Homo sapiens: one gene and its partners. The protein of the gene in region 1 purifies or fractionates together with the protein of each later gene. This does not show direct contact. Each region holds a gene or a part of one and is shown in the gene's direction. Other genes may lie near its edges. The genes, in order: UBE3D, CPSF3 and GTPBP2.

Evidence for each region.
Region 2: the proteins of UBE3D (region 1) and CPSF3 purify together in Homo sapiens (affinity purification with mass spectrometry; 5 studies listed by BioGRID and IntAct, with this or other methods). This does not show direct contact.
Region 3: the proteins of UBE3D (region 1) and GTPBP2 purify together in Homo sapiens (affinity purification with mass spectrometry; 2 studies listed by BioGRID and IntAct, with this or other methods). This does not show direct contact.

The regions. Positions count from the first base shown.
Region 1 is NC_000006.12:83,059,120-83,062,870, reverse strand, and holds part of UBE3D (E3 ubiquitin-protein ligase E3D), read left to right. Parts: intron 1-3,751. UniProt on the Homo sapiens protein: E3 ubiquitin-protein ligase which accepts ubiquitin from specific E2 ubiquitin-conjugating enzymes, and transfers it to substrates, generally promoting their degradation by the proteasome.
Region 2 is NC_000002.12:9,433,555-9,437,305, forward strand, and holds part of CPSF3 (cleavage and polyadenylation specificity factor subunit 3), read left to right. Parts: intron 1-316; coding exon 317-406; intron 407-2,656; coding exon 2,657-2,807; intron 2,808-3,751. UniProt on the Homo sapiens protein: Component of the cleavage and polyadenylation specificity factor (CPSF) complex that plays a key role in pre-mRNA 3'-end formation, recognizing the AAUAAA signal sequence and interacting with poly(A) polymerase and other factors to bring about cleavage and poly(A) addition.
Region 3 is NC_000006.12:43,622,626-43,626,376, reverse strand, and holds part of GTPBP2 (GTP-binding protein 2), read left to right. Parts: coding exon 1-151; intron 152-512; coding exon 513-621; intron 622-816; coding exon 817-1,014; intron 1,015-1,314; coding exon 1,315-1,489; intron 1,490-1,647; coding exon 1,648-1,867; intron 1,868-2,308; coding exon 2,309-2,444; intron 2,445-2,581; coding exon 2,582-2,640; intron 2,641-3,572; coding exon 3,573-3,744; intron 3,745-3,751.

The DNA.
Region 1 (3,751 bases):
TATTCATTTATTCTATCACCATCAGTTGAAAAGGCCATCATTTCTCCCATTAAAATAACTCAGTCTTCATGAGAAATCAGTTGACTATACTGTTTGCATAGTGTGTCCTTTCTACCTTTTTAACCTTTCTTATGTCTTTCTGTATAAAGCAAAAAGCTGTAAAAATACTGTATTTCCCTAAAAATAGCATAAAACTGTATGCTAGTTTTAAAAATATATAGTTGGGTGATTTTAAATCTGTTCTGATGATCTGTGTGTTCTAATTAAAATGTTTAGTATATTTTATAGTTAATTTAAATATTGGTGTTCTTGTTCCTAACTGCTATGGTTTGGATGTGTTTTGTCCCTATGTTTTCTCACTTTGATCCCCAATGTGGCAGTGTTGAGACATAGGGCCTAGTGGGAGGTGCGTGGTTCCTGAGGGCAGATTCTTCTTGAATAGATTAATGCCCTCCCATGGAGATGGTTGGGTGAGTTCTCTCTCAGGAATGGATTAATTCCTGCCATAGTGGGTTGTGAAAAAGAGTCTGGCTTCCAAAGTTTACATTCACAGATGTAAAGATCTATTTATATTAAGATATCTTAGCATTTTGGGATAAACTTTGGCCATTCATTTATTCAATCCACAGATGTTTATTGTGTTCTTACTCTAGTGCCAAAAATTCAAATTCTAAGTGCTGAGAATACAGCCATGAACAGTAACAACAGCAAAGACAAAAACACCTGCCTTTGTTGAGCATAGGGTTTAATGGTGGCAGTAGAGAAGAGGCGGCAGAGAATATACAAAATAAATATATATTTGATAGAAGTGGAGAAAAAAATTAAACAAAAAAGGAATGGGGAGAAAAAAGTTACAATCTTTTATTTCAAATGAGAAACTAACATTTGAGTATTAAACTGTAACTGGTGAGGTGTAGAACTGCCATACCTGGTGGGAGACAATTTCCCTTTGAGAGAAAGTGAGTATGAAAGGGTGCCTAGTTCAGAGAGATGCGGGTGAGTTGGGGGAACACATAGTAAAAGATCTTATGGCAGTGTGCTGGTACATGTTTAATAACCTACTCTCCATGAAAATAAACAAAAAGACAAACTAAGGTCTTGATTTGAAGCATTTGTTGATTTCTTTGGTGTGAATACTTTCACCACGTATGACCTTCAGCCTACCAACTGGGTGAGGTGAGTTGACCTGCTTTGCAGAACTCCTAGAATTTTAACAACAGGTTCTCCAAAGCTTGTAGCAGCAGGGCCTGCTATACCACTGTGCCTTATGGACCATCGAAAGGACTTTAGCTTGTAGTTAGAGTGAGAGATGAAGTCATTGGATAGTTTTAAGCAGTTGTGATACCTGACAGAATACAAGTCAATGGTGAAGAAAGCCTCAAGTATGAAATTATTGTATGAACTATGTCAATCAAACTTAGTCTTAAAGTAGGAATTCTCCTAAAGAACCATCATCCAACACTCACAATTGGGAAATGTGTTGCTACCATCTTACATCATTCATGTTTTACCAGTTGTCTACATAATATCCCTAATAACAGAAGAATCCAGTTCAGAATAAGGCATTGCATTTCACTGTCATGCTTCCTCTGTCTGTTTCAATCTAGAAGAGTTCCTCATTTTCCATTGACTTTCATGGTCCTGACACTTTGCAAGATGATAGTACAATCATTTTGTAGAATATCCTTCCATTTGGATTTGTCTTATGTTTCTTCAAGACAAGATTCAGATTTTGCATCTTTGGCAGGAATATAACAGAAGTGAGGCTTCCTGTCAGGTGGCACATGATTTTGCTTTGTTCCATCAAATTGGTTATGTTAACTTTGAGCACTTAAAGTAAGATAGTGTCTGCCATGCTTCTCTACCTTAAAGTTACTCTTTTTCTCTTCATAATCAGTAATTGGAGAGGTATTCTGAGATTATGTAAATACCCTGTTCCTCATCAGAGTTTCATTTTATTCATTTGTGTGTCAGTAAGGATACATGATTCTTACTGTGGGTTACTCAGTGGGTTTTATTTTTTATTTTATTCAATGGGCTACTTTTTTGTTCATATTATACCAGATGTGGCCAAGGAAGTCCTTTCTGGATGGTTTCTGCGTCTTTTTTGGTAGGTACCTGTCATTCTTTGATTTCTTCATGTTCCAGCAACATGTTCCAGGCATATTTCATTCTTTCCCTGTTACAGCCCTGGATGTAGTCATTTTACTGAGGAACTTTGTTTCTGGTTTGTTCATTTCGTTTTTTAAAGCAGAAAATGGCCTTTACAAACCAAGATCTGGGCACTAAGTGTACTCATCACTGTTGGATGTCGCTTCTCCCAGAACTAGGGTATGTGTGTATGACTTATATATGATGTCTATGTATGGTTGTGCCTACATACCTATGTACATACATGCATTTACAACCATCAATATTACTGTATCTATTTGTAAACATTGAAAACCATGACTTCACACAGGTATTTCTAATTCTGCCCCACCACCATAGGGTCTATTCTAGTTTCCTCGCTTTCTCTTTTTGTAACTCCATTCTCCCACAGTGAGAATCATGGCCCTCATTGTCCTAGTGGCATTTATTTATTTTGTCAGTCTCCCTCTATGTAATTAATAGTCTGCTGGCATCCTTTGCCACCTCCCCCTGCTCATTGTTGACACTCTCCTCACCTGCTTGGACCCTGTTATGGACTGAATGTTTGTGTCCCCTCAAAATGTACATGTTGAAGCCCTAACCCCCAAAGTGATGGTGTTAGGAGATGGGGCTTTGGGAGGTAGTTAGATTTAGATGAGTTCTTGAGGGCGGGGCCCCCCTGATGAGATTAGTGTCCTTATATGAAGAGGAAGAGGCACTGAACTTCCTTACTCTGCCATGTCTGTTGTTTAAGCCACCCATCTATAGTATTTTGTTATAGCAGCTGAGCTAAGACAGGCTCTGAAACCCCATCCTGAGCTGGCCTCACCTCCTGTTCAGATTTCCTCCTCACCTGTCTTGGGATTTGACACCCCTGCTGAGTGGTCCTCCTGGTGGATGCCCTCCACAGCCTGCTTGGTTTCTCATATCCATGCTGGGCCACTGTGTCACCACCCTTGCACTGATGCCTCCCTTGCTTGGCCCTATGGATGCCCTCCACAGTCTGCTTAGTTTCTCAAATCCGTGCTGGGCCACTGTGTCACCACCCTTGCAATGATGCTTCTCTTGCTTGGCCCTATAAAATGACTAAAGTTTTTGGGACTGGGAAGAAATGTGATAAACCAGAGATGGGGTGGCAATGGGGACTTAGGAACCCAGTGGTATCTCTTGCGGCACTTGGAAGTGTCAACTCTACACAGTCTAGTTTGAAAGTCATTGAGGTAGCAAATGGACATTGTGTTATCTTTAGAGCAGTGGTCAGAGAACTATGGCCCATTGGCCAAATCCTACCTGCAGCCTGTTTTGGTACAGCCTGTGAGCTAAGAGTTGGATTTTTCTTCTGTATCTTTTTTTCTTTTAGACAGGTTCTTGATCTGTCGCCCAGGCTGACATGCATTGGCGTGATCATGGCTCACTGCAGCCTCCTGGGCTTAAGTGATCCTCCCCATCTCAGCCTCCTGAGTGGCTAGGACTACAGGTGCGTGCCACTATACCCAGCTGATTTTTTATTTTTTATTTTTTTGTAGAGCCAGAGCCTTGCTTTGTTGCCCAGGCTGGTCTCAAACTTCTTGGCTCAAACCATCCTCCCACCTCAGCCTCCCAAAGTGCTAGGATTAGAGGA
Region 2 (3,751 bases), on another chromosome or scaffold:
CTTTCCTTGTCTGCATGCCCTTTTTCTCTAAGAAGTTCAGAGCACTTCTCAAGTGGATTAATGTTATATAGGTTATCATTGTGAGATGATACTGGGAATAGATTATTCCCATTTACTAGAGGAAATAATTGAAGCACTGAACCGTTTACTGACTGAACTACACATTTTGAATTGGACACAAGCACTGCATGTAAATTTCATCAGTTTTAGACTTAAAAACTGTAACTGCACTTTTGGATTTCATGAGTTTAATCTATTCACTAGCAAAATGAAGCCTTCCCCAAATCCTAACTTTCTAGTTTTATCTTTTTCACAGCTTTTGTACACTGGTGATTTCTCAAGACAAGAAGATAGGCACTTAATGGCAGCTGAAATTCCTAATATTAAGCCTGATATTCTTATCATTGTAAGTATTAATATACTATATTGTAATCAATGTAATGTAAGCAGATTTTTTTTCTTTTGGAAAATAATACTGTGATCTCACTTTCATAATATGTTATTGGATATAAACTTACCTTTTTTAAAATATAAGAAAACTGGTGGCCGGGCACGGTGGCTCACACCTGTAATCCTAGCGCTTTGGGAGGCTGAGGTGGGCAGATCACTTAAGGCCAGGAGTTAGAGACCACCTTGGCCAACACAGTGAAAACCCATCTCTACTAAAAAAATACAAAAATTAGCTGGGTGTGGTGGTGCAGTTACCTGGGAGGCTGAGGCACAAGAATCACTTGAACCCAGAAGGTGGAGGTTGCAGTGAGCCAAGATCACGCTGCTGCACTCGAGCCTGGGCTACAAAGCAAGACTCAGTCTCAAAAAAAAAAAAAATTGGGGCAGGTGCTTCTTTTTGTAGTGCAGTTTCACTTTCTTGCTGTTAAATGCATTAACTCTAGTCTAATATCAGAGATGCCAGGCTGCCTCTGGGCAGGATCAGCAGGCTGTCTCTGGGCAGGATCATTTTTACTGGCTATGCCCTCTCTCTGTCTTCTAAATATATATTTCTAGATGAGAATATGTAGAAGAACATCTTACGGGTCATTTTAAAATGGTGTGACCTCACTGCCTTTGCCATGGTGACTATCCTCAGGCCCTTAGTCCATGCTAACTTATCGTTTTGTTTATCTTTGTGTGTCATGTCTGCCTACTAGGTTGCAAGTCCCAGGGGAGCAAAAAAAATGAACTGTGTACAGAAGCTCTTTGGGGGCAGCTTGGGATGTGTGTTGCTGACTGTAGAGTCAGGGGTTGGGAGAGAAATCTTGCAAGCTTTTGGTGTATATAAGAACATCAGGTGTATGTGGTTCAAGGAGGAAGAGTTGTCTGTTTCTCCTCCACCACCTACCATGTTCCCCAGCTGCCCAGGCATGTGGGCCAGTACATACTGCTGTCCATAAGCAACATGTGAGCAGATTAGATTGGACTCTGCTCATGGTATGCCCAGCATATAAACTTAATTTAAGGGAAGATTTATTTTTTGAACCCTCAGAAAAAGTAGCTATTTTCATAGTACCATACTTTAGAGCAGTGCTTCAAATTTTAATATGCTTATAATCATCTGATGATATTGCTAAGATACAAATTCTGATTCAGTACATCTGGGCTGGGGTCTGAGATTTTGCGCTTCTGATAAGCTCCCAAGGGATGTCAATCTTCTGGTCAGTGGACCATACCTAGTAAGACTTTAAGGATATTCTTAAACAGAAGTATAAGAAACAACATCTGTTTCTATTTTAAAAGCTTTGACTTATCAGAGGTGGGAGAAATAACCTTTTTCTTCCTAATGGAAAGCAAAATGGTTAAAAAAGGACATGGGAAGAAGATACAGTTTTGGACTATTTCATTTTATAAAAAGTTCTTAGATTTGAATTCTAGCATTCTTTTTTTTTTTTTTTGAGATGGAGTCTCACTCTGGAGTGAGCGACTGCAATGGCATGATCTCGGCTCACTGCAACCACTGCCTCCCAGGTTCAAGTGATTCTCCTGCCTCAGCCTCCTGACTAGCTGGGATTATAAGGCATGCGCCACCATGCCCAGCTAATTTTTGTATTTTTAGTAGAGACGGGGTTTCATCCTGTTGGTCAGACTGGACTCCTGACCTCAGGTGATCCACCCGCCTCGGCCTTCCAAAATGCTGGGATTACAGGCATGAGCCACCATGCCCGGCCTCTTTTTGTTGTTGTTGTTAAATTTTATTTTTTTGAGATGGAGTCTTGCTCTGTCGCCCAGGCTGGAGTGCAATGGTGCGATCTCGGCTCACTGCAACCTCCTCCTCCTGGGTTCAAACAGCTCTCCTGCCTCAGCCTCCGGAGTAGCTGGGATTACAGGCGCCCACCACCACGCCCAGCTTATTTTTGTATTTTTAGTAGAGACAGGGTTTCACCATGTTGGCCAGGCTGGTCTCAAACTGCTGACCTCAGGTGATCCACCCACCTTGGCTTCCCAAAGTGCTGGGATTACAGGTGTGAGCCACCACGCTGGGCCTGAATTCTAGCATTCTTGCTTGCTCTTCCCAATTACTATTATGACAACACATGTTCGAGTAAATGACATGCTAATGGAGAAGTGAATTGCTTAGCCCCTCAGTATTTCATTGATGTTTAACTTTTGAATTCTTGGAGGATCATTGGTCTTAGTCTCACACTTCTAATGTATTATTTAGGAATCTACTTATGGGACCCATATCCATGAGAAACGTGAAGAGCGAGAAGCAAGATTCTGTAACACTGTCCACGATATTGTAAACAGAGGAGGCAGGGGTCTCATTCCTGTCTTTGCTCTTGGAAGGGCTCAGGAGCTGCTCTTGATTCTAGGTATGCCATTTCCTTTGTATTTAGGCGATGATCAAAATCTTGTCATTTTATCAAGATAATAATGTGGTCTTGGATGAGTCATTCCACCGTTCTGGACTTCAGTTTTCTTCATTTAAAAATAGAGATTTGGGGCCGGGCGCGGTGGCTCACGCCTGTAATCCCAGCACTTTGGGAGGCTGAGGTGGGGAGATCACGAGATCAGGAGTTCAAGACCAGCCTGACCAAGATGGTGAAACCCCATCTCTACTAAAAATACAAAAATTAGCCGGGCACAGTGACAGATGCCTGTAATCCCAGCTACTCAGGAGGCTGAGGCAGAGAATTGCTTGAACCTGGGAGGTGGAGGTTGTAGTGAGCCGAGATTGCGCCACTGCACTCCAGCCTGGGCGACAGAGCGAGACTCCATCTCAAAAAATAATAATAATAATAATAATAGGGATTTGGATCTAGGAATAGCCCAGGAAAACAGCAACTCTCATGCACTGCTGTTGGGAATGTGAACTGGCGACCCCTTCCGGTTGCCATCAGAAGTCTTAAAATATGTGTACCCTTTGGCCAGCAGTTCCGCTTCTGGGAAATAAATGAGATGTACAGAAAATTTTGTCAGGAAAGGTATTCATCATTTTAGTATTTTCAAAGAAATATGTGAGTAAATATAGCATTGTAGGAAAAAATTGTGTTACAGATGAGTAATTACATACTTTGCACATAATATATTAAGTCAACCAAAAAAGTAGAGTTCAAAACTATATTTACTCTGGGCTGGACGTGGTGGCTCACGCCTGTAATCCTAGCACTTAGGGAGGCTGAGGTGGGCAGATCACTTGAGGCCAGGAGTTCAAGACCAGCCTGGCCATCATGGTGAAACCTCGTCTCTACCAAAAATAGAAAAATGAGCCAGGTGTGGTGGCACACACCTGTAGTTCCAGCTTTTCTGGAGGCTG
Region 3 (3,751 bases), about 39 Mb from region 1:
AGCACCTGGTGACACAAATGAAGTGGCGGCTCCAGGAGGGACGTGGTGAGGCCGTCTACCAGATTGGGGTAGAGGACAATGGGCTGCTGGTGGGGCTGGCTGAGGAGGAAATGCGAGCTTCGCTCAAGACCCTGCACCGGATGGCAGAGAAGTATGCTTCCCCTTCCCCACCAGTTCTCCTTTACCTGACTTGGGGGGACCCATGCATACCCAGTTACCTAGGGCCTGAGGGGCCAAGGTGGGACTTTCCTTCTCTTGACAAAGGGCTGAAGTGGGGAGGGTTAGTGTTTTGGTCCCCTCCTCACTGGACCTAGGCTGTTTTGCTCCTTGAATTAAGATATGTATATTTGTTTTAAAGGGAACTGTGAATGAGGAATAGATTGGAGGGTGGTAGGAAGTGCACTAAGGTATTGGGAGCTCTGTGGGAGGTGCAGGAAGTCTGTAGGTCCAGAGCGAGCCTGGAATAGGAGAAGGACAGGTGAGATATGGCAGCTGTGGCCTTGCTGTGACAGGGTTGGGGCAGACATAACCGTTCTTCGAGAGCGAGAAGTGGATTATGATAGCGACATGCCCCGGAAGATCACCGAGGTGCTAGTACGAAAGGTCCCTGACAACCAACAGGTGAGCACACACCCATCCCTGTCTCTCATGTCCACACTGTGGAAGGGCCCTGTGGTGGCAGGCTGTCTCCTGGCCTGGGATCCTGGGGGCTTCCAGTTCATCACTTGCTCCCTAGGGAGCGTCACTGCCCTTGACCCAGTCTTCAGTTAGAGGGGTGAGAGATTGGAGTTCTTATCTCTGGCAATTCATCCACAGTTCCTAGACCTCCGTGTGGCCGTCCTGGGGAATGTGGACTCTGGGAAGTCAACTCTGCTTGGAGTCCTGACCCAGGGAGAGCTGGACAATGGGCGGGGCCGGGCTCGGCTCAACCTTTTCCGCCACCTGCATGAGATTCAGTCTGGCCGAACCTCCAGCATCAGCTTCGAGATCCTGGGCTTTAACAGCAAGGGAGAGGTGCATGGGATCAATGGGACCCAATGGGGCCAGACTCTGAGGATGGGATGGTAGTAGTGAAGGACATAGGATGGGGGTAGAGTGTGGAGACTTTTTGAAATAGTATAGATGAATGCCCTGAGGGGACTGTGAACAAGCTCTGCCCCTCTTAGGAAATCAATGGGGAATCAACTAAATTAAATAAAAAATGGGGTCAAGATTAAGAGGCAGGGTCACCCAGGGAATGGTTTAGGTCCTGGCAACTCTGAAGGGGTTGGAAGGGCTGGCAGGAGGCACTGAGGGCCCTGGGCCCTGGGCCAGGTGGTGAATTACAGCGACTCACGGACAGCAGAAGAGATCTGTGAGAGCAGCTCCAAGATGATCACCTTCATCGACCTGGCAGGCCACCATAAGTACCTACACACCACCATCTTTGGCCTCACATCATACTGCCCCGACTGCGCCCTGCTCCTCGTCAGTGCCAACACTGGGATTGGTACGAGGCATTAGGGCAGGGACAGGGCTGAAGGGGGGTGCTGACTCTCCTACCCTGGGCCTCAAATCTTGGAGACAGACCAATGCTCCTCTTCTTCCCTCTCCTCCCTCCTGCATTCTCACTCTTCTCTCCTGCTGCTTGCTGTCCTTATGAGGCAGCTGGCACCACAAGGGAACATCTGGGGCTGGCCCTGGCCCTGAAAGTGCCCTTCTTCATCGTGGTCAGCAAGATCGACCTATGTGCCAAGACCACAGTGGAGAGGACAGTACGCCAGCTGGAGCGGGTCCTCAAGCAGCCTGGCTGCCACAAGGTCCCCATGCTGGTCACCTCTGAGGATGATGCCGTCACTGCTGCCCAGCAGTTTGCTCAGTCACCCAAGTAAGCCCACCTTACTCTAAAGCCCTGATCCACTAGGAAGGCTGCCACAGAGCCCAGGGCCCAGAAGCATGATATCCTACTTCTCCAGGGCCAGACCAGTTCTGGCTTAGTTCTGCGGGTGTTTCAGCTTGGGATTGTGGAGGGGCATCTTGCTAAAGGGCTTGACCCTCCTCCCGAGCCAACCTGGAGCACTGCTGATGCCTGGGACCATGGCGATGAAGTGCTATACCAGGCATTTGCTGTTTCCCTTGGGCTCGGATGGGCTTTTTGTGTGACATTGCTCGACTGGCTCACAAGAAGGCCCAGAGTTCCTGAGCCATTTGCAGACAGGAGAGAGGGGCCCCCAGCCAGAACAAAGCTCACCTTTCCATGTATGGGGCTCTGGCCTCTGCCTCCTGTTTGGACTGTCTTCATCTGTCCATTCCATGCCTCCCTCTACAGTGTCACCCCCATCTTCACATTGTCCAGTGTGTCTGGAGAGAGTCTGGACCTCCTCAAAGTCTTTCTGAATATTCTGCCGCCACTCACCAACAGCAAAGAGCAGGAGGAACTCATGCAGCAGCTGACGGAGTTCCAGGTAGTTGACTGCCCAAACATCTAATAGGCTGGGAAACAGGGAGGGGCTGCTTCAGACCAAACCCAGAGTCTGTTTAGAGATTTTGGACCCACCAGCCCTACTTGGCAGGCCATTGATAGCGTTTTCTTTGGCTTCAGGTGGATGAAATCTACACAGTACCAGAGGTGGGGACTGTTGTTGGAGGAACACTTTCCAGGTAAATTGTCTTGCTTGCTACCCTCCCCACTCAGCCCTCACCTATATACTCAAAGACATCCTGGCCCAAAGGAGGAGACCCTGGAATTGAACGGAACCCATTTAAAGGACATGCTTATTTGCAGATTAGGCTTTCACTATCAGAAGAGCTGGAGAACGGTAGTCTGTTGGCTTTGGAGGGAAGAAACAGTATTGCTGCCTATTGGGGAATCTCCAGGCCCCTGAGAGAGAAGTGTGGGTCTTGAGCTCCAGGAAGAAAACTAGAGTGTATTCAACTGACTTCATCTCACACAGGGAAATGAGAGACGTCACTTAAGACTCTTCTTTCTTTCTTTCTTTCTTTTTTTTGAGACAGAGTCTCGCTCTGTTGCCCAGGCTGGATTGCAGTGGAGCGATCTTGGCTCACTGCAACCTCTGCCTCCTGGGTTCCAGCAATTCTCCTGCCTCAGCCTTGAGTAGCTGGAATTACAGGCGCCTACCACCATGCCCGGCTAATTTTTGTATTTTTAGTAGAGATGGGGTCGTCACCATATTGGCCAGGCTGGTCTTGAATTCCTGACCTCAAGTGATCCACCTGCCTCAGCCTCCCCAAGTGCTAGGATTACAGGTGTGAGCCAACGCGGCTGGCCTAAGACTCTGCAAAGCAGAGAATGAAACCCAAGGGGATAACTTGCTCCTTCAGTGATTAGGTGTTCGGTGTTGTTAAACCAGCAAGTGTCTCTCTGTCCACCATCACTGCTGGCCTTTTATGAAATTAGTCTTCTGATTCTGAACTCTGGCAGTGAGCCCTGTTACATCCAAGTCAGAATTTAGGGTTCTTCCCCACTTGAGGGACTCAACCCTAGAAGGGAAGGAATGCTCTGGGTGATCCTAATAGAGAAGTAGGTATGGGGACCTTGGCTGACACTGTGCCACCTGCCCTCTGGGCTGCAGTGGGATTTGCCGTGAGGGGGACCAGCTGGTGGTGGGCCCCACGGATGATGGCTGCTTCCTGGAGCTGAGAGTATGCAGCATCCAGCGCAACCGCTCTGCCTGTCGTGTGCTGCGAGCTGGTCAGGCTGCTACACTGGCGCTTGGGGACTTTGACCGTGCACTGCTTCGCAAGGTGAGGT